2 separate regions of the Homo sapiens genome follow, and region 2 is linked to region 1. The links come from fine-mapping of genetic effects on gene expression. A gene starts in region 1. The other region holds a variant in brackets. All regions are shown on one strand. Distances are between the middles of the regions.

Evidence for each region. PIP is the estimated chance that this variant, and not a neighbour inherited with it, causes the effect.
Region 2: its variant is the best candidate, but not a certain one, in a credible set for the expression of MIEF1 in whole blood (INTERVAL, PIP 0.86).

Annotation. Positions count from the first base shown.
Region 1 is chr22:39,500,023-39,504,022 of GRCh38, forward strand. It overlaps MIEF1 (mitochondrial elongation factor 1), which reads left to right and starts at 2,268. Exons shown (of 6, transcript NM_019008.6): 1 at 2,268-2,415. It overlaps LOC105373035 (a long non-coding RNA gene), which reads right to left and starts at 2,138. Exons shown (of 3, transcript XR_938263.4): 1 at 2,012-2,138; 2 at 1,242-1,570; 3 at 470-546. RefSeq lists enhancers at 2,048-2,549, 2,407-2,456, 2,550-3,049 and a silencer at 2,557-2,666.
Region 2 is chr22:39,542,713-39,547,224 of GRCh38, forward strand. No RefSeq gene overlaps it. Among named protein-coding and RNA genes, the nearest start is that of RPS19BP1, 12 kb to the left of the region's middle. The variant A/G (reference allele first, on the strand shown) is at 1,992.

The sequences.
Region 1 (4,000 bases):
TCACTTGAACCCGGGAGGCAGAGGCTGCAGTGAGCCAAGATCGCGCCACTGCACTCCAGCCTAAAGACAGAGCGAGACTCCATCTCAAAACAAACAAACAAACAAACAAACAAACACCCTGCAATATCAATCCAAGAGATCCTGGAATGCCTCTTGCCCTGTGAAACCTGGCAGAGCCCTGAGGTTTGGGTCAGTGCCCCCTGCCGTGGGTCTCTGGCCTACAAAGGCACCATGGGTACGTACATGTAAGTGCTAGATACCACCTCACTGCCCACACTCCATTGCCACGGAAGCATCGGGGGCAGGGAGAGGCCTTGTCAGTCTAAGTAAAGATAAGACCCTGAAGAGCAAGTGGATCTAGAGGGGCTGATCCGAAGGGGAGACCCCTCCAAATGACCTCCCTCTGTCCCTCCCTCCGAAAAATAACATTCCATAGAACAAGAAAGTCAGGAGAGATATGAAGAGGTCATCTGGTATGCCGATGGAAATGCCACCAATTATATTTATTTGGGTCACAAAATTCTTTAAAAAGCAAATTAGGGCAGCCTGAAAGAGTGGAAAGAACACACATTTCAGAGTAAGACAGACTTGGCTTCCACTGAAAGCTTCTTTCCTTCTTAGCTCAGTGTCTTAGAAACTACTATGCCTCTCTCCATCTTGGTTTTCTTTTCTTTTCTTTTTCTTTTTTTTGAGACCGAGTCTTGTTCTGTCGCCCAGGCTGGAGTACAGTAGCGTGATCTTGGCTCACTGCAACCTCTGCCTCCCAGGCTCAAGCAATTCTCCTGCCTCAGCCTCCCAAGTAACTGGGATTACAGGTACAATGCCACCACTCCCGGCTAATTTTTGTATTTTTAGTAGAGATGGGGTTTCACCATGTTGGTCAGGCTGGTCTCGAACTCCTGACCTCAAGTAGATCCGCCCACCTCAGCCTCCCAAAGTGCTGGGATTACAGACGTGAGCCACCGTGCCCAGCCCTGCAACAGACTCTTGATTGGTCTCCCTGCCTCAGCCCTGGTTCCATTCCGTTATTCTCAAGCCAGACAGATCCCATTGAAAGGGAAGTCAGATCCCAGCACTTCTTGGCTCTGAACCCTGCTGTGGTTCCTTTGCACCCGCCATCTCCCTCCCAGTTCTGGTAAGGGCCTCCCCTCTGGCCTCTTTCCCAGCTCCTGCTCACTCAGCTGCGAAAGCACTGGCTTTCTCCCTGTGGCTCCTAGACCACGCTGAGCTTAAAGGCTTACCTGGGGGGAGGCCTGAAATGCTCTTCCCTGCAATGTTCTTCTCCTGGTTCTCGTCCTTTTATCAGATAGCCTGACTATTCTGCAATTGCCCACCCCTCTACTGGTAGATATTACCTTTTAATCCTCACCACAGCCCCAAGGCTGGGTGAGGTTAGGAAACTTGGCAGAGGGCAGCTGTCCCTAAGTGGTGGAACTGGAACTAGGAGCCAGCGGTGGCCCCGGTGGCCCCGGACTCCAAAGCCCCAGGCCCTGGGCTTGGCAGAGCCAGGCATGGAGGGAGGCAGTTGGGGGAGGGAGCTTCCATAGAGACACGGCCTCCGTCCTCAAATCTAGTGAGAGACAGAGAAGCAAATGGATAAATTACAGTGCCTGGCATATGGTAGGCGCCAAGAAATACGTTTTGTTGTTGAACAGATTATGAGGCGTAAGATGTGCAGACATTTCCGTGGGGCCCAAAGAAGGCACGTGAGTGTGTTAGAGGGAGGCGAGGAAGGGGCTGGGAGAGATTTCCCAGTGAAGGGGGGCATTTGAGGTAGACTTTGAAGGAAGGGTAGGAGTTTGCCAGAAGCCATGGGGCCTGGGGAGTAGGAACAGCATGGAGGGATGAAAAGAAGGCGATCTGAGAAAATGGGTTTTGAGGAGCTCTGAATATTAGTGTTAGAATTCCCTCAGGTACCCCAGGGCCCCAGCCAGAGATCAGCATATACAGTACAGGAGGCTGGCCAGGTACCCCGACAGGCTAAGGGGTTGCCAGCAGGTGAGGGGCCTACCCGGTGCGGCAGCCTTGTTGGACAGCGAGGCTACCTCCTGCCCTCTGAACTTCTGCCAGCATCGGGACCACCCCGGTACCCACAGCCGGACCCGGACACCGGAGTCCTCTGGGGGCGGGGCGCGAGTGGCCTCTGCAGGCCAGTCCCTTGGTGAGGTCACACACGGAGGCGGGGCTCAGGATTGGGGGGCGGAATCATGCGCAGGGGGCGGGGCCCGAGAGAGAGCTTGGAGAAGACCGGAAGTCCCTCCGCCTCCACTCGCCCTCGTGCTCCCTTCAGCCCCTTCGCAGCTCCGTGCGCAAGGTCGTGTCCCGGAAGTGAAGGGGCCATGTTGATGGGTGACCCGGGGAGAGGTACCCGGCCAGAGGCGAGTCCTGCGGAGTGGTAGCGCGCACGGCCTGCGGGTGAGTGAGAGAAGGAATGAGGGCCGCCGGCGGCTGGGCGGCGGGGAGGTTGCAGCGCCTCCTCTCAGGCTGCTGCCGGCGCCTCGCATGCGGCCCGGAGTCAGGATACCAGCATGCAGCCGGGGGTCTCGCCCCATCCCGCCCTGGACTTTCCCCTGGGAGACCCCTCGGCTGCCCCGCCCCGCCCCAACCTCGGAGACCTCCAGTGCCCCGAAGCAGGCCTGCCCTGGCCTCTGGGCCTCCGCACCCCGGCCCGGCCCCCACGGTTGGTGAAGTGCAGACTGGCTGGGGCTCAGCCGCCCAGTCGCCCAGCGACCTTGTAGTTACAGCCCTCGCCGTGACAGTCGCCTTTTACAGCATCAAACACTTCTGTTGATTTTCTGCATCGGGAGGTCCTTAGGGCCGAGGGATCTCTTAAACAGTTGAGGAAAAATGGGCAGGGATGGTGGCTTGCTCAAGCTTGCGCAGGAAGTTAGCAAGGCCGGAGGCTAAGGGCTCGCGGACTTTGGGCCCAAAGTCCAATCTTTTTTTCCAGCCAAATACTTCCCCCACTTGGTGTCATTTCTTTATTTCTGAAACGGAGGTGATCATTTCTTCCACATAGGGACGTTGTGAAATTCTCTCCGTTACGCATAATTTTGAGCCCCTTGTATGTGCCAAGCGCTGTGCTGGGAAAGTTCGTGGAGCACCCAGAAGTGCTGTACACACGGTCCGGCTCCAGCAAAGGGTAACTCATTCCAGAGGCAGGCAGAGTTGGGGTCAGGAGTGCAGCCCTCCCCTTGACAGCTGTGGGCCCGCGGGCAAGTTACTTCCCTCTGGGAGATTGTTTCCTCCACTTAAAATGGGGTAATGTTGACCCCTAGGGTAGCTGACAGAATGAGTTGTTATGTGAGACATGCTTCGAACATTGCACGTTGTATATAGTGCAATATAATGCAATAAGCATTTACTGTTACTAAGAACCCTGACCACCTTCTAGATTCTTAATTTAAATGTGGTCATGGGCAACAAAGCACTTTACAGATATGCTTGTGTAAGGGTTTATTGTTACTGAAGGAAGGCAGTGGCAGTTTATACTTAAATGTAATTATTTATTGAGCATTTACAAACCTGGCTAGGTGCTACTAATAATATCTGCTGTTGATAGAGTGCTTCGTGTGTGCCAAGTGCTGTTCTAAACATATTCACATACATTAAACTCATTTAGTGCTTATGCCAACCGTATGGGCAAAATATGATTTTTATCCTCACTTCACAGATGAGGAACTGAGACAGTCACAGAGAGGTTAGGAGACTTGCCCACGGTCATGCAGCTCGTAAGTGCTGGTGCCAGGATTCAAGTATGGCTGAGTGCTTGTCTTCAACCCTCCTAGATCACCCCCTGTGGTGAAGTTCTATTACCGTTCATTACGTGCACAGTTCTCAAAATAATCCTATGTGGTAGGTACTATTGCCATAATATCCTAATCTCCATTTTATAAGTGAGGAAGCTGGTGCTCAGCGGGGGTTCAGTCCTTTGCCCAAAGTCATATGGCAAGTAAGTGGCAGGGCCAGGATTTGAGCCCTGGTGAACCACAACCTGTAT
Region 2 (4,512 bases), 43 kb after region 1:
TGTGAGCCACCCAATACATCACTTTGAGAGGCCGAGGTGGGAGGATTGCTTGAACTTGGGAGTTCGAGGTTGCAGTGAGCCATGATCACGCCACTGCACTCCAGCCTGGGCAACAGAGAAAGACTCTATCTTAAAAAAAAAAAACAATCCCGCCAGGCTCACACAGGCAGTGGCTCACGCCTGTAATCCCGGCACTTTGGGAAGCTGAGGTGGGCAGATCACGAGGTCAGGAGTTCAAGACCAGCCCGGCCAACATGGTGAAACCGCATCTCTATTAAAAACACAAAAATTAGCCAGGCATGGTGGCATGCGTCTGTAATCCCAGCTACTCAGGGGGCTGAGGCACGAGAATCGCTTGAACCCAGGAGGCAGAGCCTGCAGTGAGCCAAGATCGTGCCATTGAACTCCAACTTGGGTGATAGGGCGAGACTCCATCTAAAAACAAAAACCAAAAAACACAAAAAAACAAAAAACCCCAAAACAAAAGTTAAGTCAGATAAAGTGCCTGCCAAGAGAAGACCTCAAGAAACGCTCACCAGGATTATGATCATACGGCCATCTGCAACCAATTCCCCGGCTGCGTGCGCGAGCCCTGTGTGCTTTCCAGTACCACGTGGGGGCGTTCTCCTCTGTCCCTTACTTTCTCTACCCCCTGCCTCCCCGACCCAAAGCTCAAGTCTGAAGGGGGATTTCTTGCAGGGAAGCAGTGGTATACAGAGTTCTGCAGGAAAATGAGAGCTTCTAGTCTCTCCTTCTCCCTTCTGTGAAACAGGAGAGGAAATCCTCCCTCCCTCTTGGGAATTACTGAGTGTTTCTCAGACTCCAGCTGAGTCTCCAGTCCCTAGTTCCTCAGAGACCCAGATGAATTAAAGTTGTAAGTAAATTAGGAATCGTTCATTATTTGATGGCTGGGATCCTTTGGCAGGTGGAGTGGTGGAGGAGGGGAGGTGGGGCCATCTTCCTGCTGGGCTCAAAGATTCTCTCCGGAGAGGTGTGTTTGGCCCAGGCCAGCCCAGGGGCCTAAGAGAGAGAGCCGGCCCCCACTCCTCCTGCTCAGAAAGATCCTTCCCACAGTCTCAGATACCACTGTCTTCCTGGACAATCTTGCAAGAGGCCTTTTCTCTCTCAGCCTTAGTTTTCTCATCTGCAAAATGGTACCAAGGGTGGGGGGGAAGATTCTATTCAATTGTCTTTAAGGTTGATTTAGGCAGTAAGTTTCTTTTTCTTTTCTTTCCTTTTTTTTTTTTTGAGATGGAGTTTCGCTCTTGTTGCCCAGGCTAGAGTGCAATGGCGCAATCTCGGCTCATTGCAACCTCCGCCTCCCAGGTTTAAGGGATTCTCCTGCCTCAGCCTCCTGAGTAGCTGAGATTACAGGAATGAGCCACCACCTCAGCTAATTTTGTATGTTTAGTAGAGACGGGGTTGGTCAGACTGGTCTTGAACTCCCGACCTCCGGTGATCCACCCGCCTTGGCCTCCCAAAGTGCTGGGATTATAGGCATGAGCCACCGTGCTCGGCCTTCTTTTCTTTTCTTTTCTTTTTTTCTTTTTTTTTTTTTCTTGAGACAGAGTCTCGCTCTGTTGTCCAGGCTGGAGTGCAATGATGTGATCTCGGCTCACTGCAACCTCTGCCTCCTGGGTTCAAGCGATTCTCCAGCCTCAGCCACCCAAGTAGCTGGGACTACAGACGCACACCACCATGCCCAGATTTTTTTTTTTTTTTTTTTTTTTTTTTTTTGAGATGGAGTCTCACTCGCCCAGGCTGGAGTGCAGTGGCGCGATCTCAGCTCACTGCAACCTCCGCCTCCCAGGTTCAAGCAATTCTCCTGCCTCAGCCTTCTGAGTAGCTGGGATTACAGGTGCGCACCACCACGCCCAGCTAATTTTTGTATTGTTAGTAGAGATGGGGTTTCACCATATTGGTCAGGCTGATCTCAAACTCCTGACCTCGTGATCCACCCGCCTCTGCCTCCCAAAGTTTTGGGATTACAG[A/G]CGTGAGCCACCGCGTCCGGCCTGCCCAGCTAATTTTTATATTTTTAGTACAGATAAGGTTTTGCCATGTTGGCCAGGCTGGTCTTGAACTCCTGACCTCAGATGATCTCCCCACCATAGCCTCTCAAAGTGTTGAGATTACAGGCGTGAGCTATTGTGCCCACGTCCTTCCAGGCTCAAGTGATCTTCCCACCTCAGCCTCCTGAGTAGCTGGGACCACAGGCGTTTGCCACTATGCTCAGCTATAGGCAATACGTTTATATCCATAAACTTGGACATCTCTTCTTCTGTAATACCTGCGATACTGTTTTTGTTCGAGGAACCAATTTGTACCCCCACCCTAACCCTAGGATATTCAGCCAAGTATTTTTCTCATATAGAAGGACAGATAACTAAGTGAATCGGTATGGCAGGCTCTGTGCTAGCTGCTGGGGGTGCTGCAATGAGTTATGGTATTTCCTGCCTTCCAGAAGCTCCCTCTCCAGTGGGGGACACTGGGGAGCTGGGCCTCGAAGGAGAAAGGAGGGCACTCCAGGTTGGGGGGAGCAGCATGTGCAGAGGCCTGGAGGCATGAGTCAGTGAGGGATAGGGAAAGTGTAACTGACCTCTGAGGAGCAGGTGTGTGCCAGCCAACGAGGCCCCTTTGTCTGACCAGGGGAAGGGAAGGTTAGTGCTCCTCTCCCTCCCCAGAGGAAAACAAAATTTTAGAGACTGTCAGAAATGTGATGGAGCTGTCAGGAGAACATGAAACAGCCACGTACCCTGGGAAACGGAAGTCACAGCTCTGTTTGTTCTGTGACAGTGTGAAAACTCACAACCTTTTCATCGAGATGGGTAACGAAAACATGAGAAAACTGGAAGTGCTTTGGTTTGGCTCAGCTGAGGACATTACTCCAAGCCCGCCCAGGCTCTCCCCTCCGGCCTGGATTCGTTTCTGTGTCAACACTCGCCCAGCCTTGCACAGCCGGGCACACGGGCGTCTCCCTCTGCAGTGGTTCCCCGACTTGTCGGCCATCTTCGCTGGTGGTGTTTTCCTTGGTCACTGTGGTTATTTGAAAGCGATGTCAAAGCAAACACTGCTCTCTCTCCCTGAAAACCCCTGGCAGGAGCTGCCTTTCTCACCGTCCCTGTCCTTCGTCTCCTCCTGTCCCTTCCTTCCTGCCGCAGCCTCTTCCCTCAATCCTACTGAACTCCTTCCTGGGAGAGGTTAGGGCGGGAATCGCCACCTTCCAGGGCACGGAGAGGCGAAGCGGAATTCAGCACCACGGACAGCAGCCCGGCGCGCAGTTGGCGTGCGGTTGGCTCAGGAAGTTATTCTGTAGGTTTTGTAGGTTTATGACCCGCTGTTGGGTAGCAAAAGGCCTTGAACGCTGACTCAGGAGGTCGGGGTGCAGGGAGCTGGATCGGGGGTGCTGATGATGTCGGAGGAGCTCCTTGTGGATCTGGAGATAATTTTCCTATAAAATTCCCTCTCTCCTTTGTTTCCAAGACCCTTGACCACACTTGCACCTTCCCCTACCACCTCTCCCTCCACAGTTAATAATAACATACATGTGTCTGTGTGTACTCGACAGGGAATGCGAACGTATTTGCGTGAATCTGTACCTTGGTGTAATAGTGTATTTAATACAAGTAGTATCTGGGTGTACGTGTGAGGATGTTTGTGGGATTTGTGGGTCTGTGTGAACGTGTCAGTCTCTGTGTCTGTGTGTGTGTGCACATGTGGGGCTGCGAGTGTCTCCGTGGATTTCTTCTCCTTTAGGGGAGGGCAGCTCTGTGCCTGGGAAGTGAACGCTGTGGGTTAAGCATCGAAGACCACCCTCCCCACCAGTTTTCTCTGGAGGGTCAGGATGCAGGGGGATCCCTAGACTCAGGGATCGAGAGATTATTTGCCAATGGTATTCACTCCCTCCTTTGTTTCCAAGACCCTTGACCACCCCTCCACCTACCCCAACAAGTTTGAGTGCATGCATGTGCACACATACACACACATACACACTTCCACTTTTTCTGTGGTCTGCAAGCCTTGGCTCTTGTTTTTTCTCCCTTCACACCCCACTCTCCCCTCTCCAGCCCCTTGTCATGGGTCCTCAGCCCCACTACCCCAGGCCTTCATTCCCTTCTTCTGGGGGAGTGTCTGGCCTGGCAGCCACAGGAGACTGGCGTGGTTCATCTTATACTTGCCTGCTGTGTGACCTTGGGCAATCATCGCCCCCTTCCACTTGATTTCCTGGCTTCAGAAAGGGGCTCTTTGGACCATGTTATTTCTAAGCTCAGAGCCCAACCCCATGGTCAGCTCCTAGCACTGACTCCCTAGTGGGAAGAACTGTGGGCCAGGTTAGGATGTGTGCCAATGGCTGCAGGAGAGCACAGGCAGCACCCTGTGGGCATGGAGAGGGAGAGGAGGCAGGGGCTCTGAGTGTGTGTAGAGGGGAGGGGAGGCGAGGGTGGGAGGAAGAACACAGGAGCTGCTGGACCAGAACAGAAGAACCCCTTGCCTGTATATTTAGCTCATCGAGGA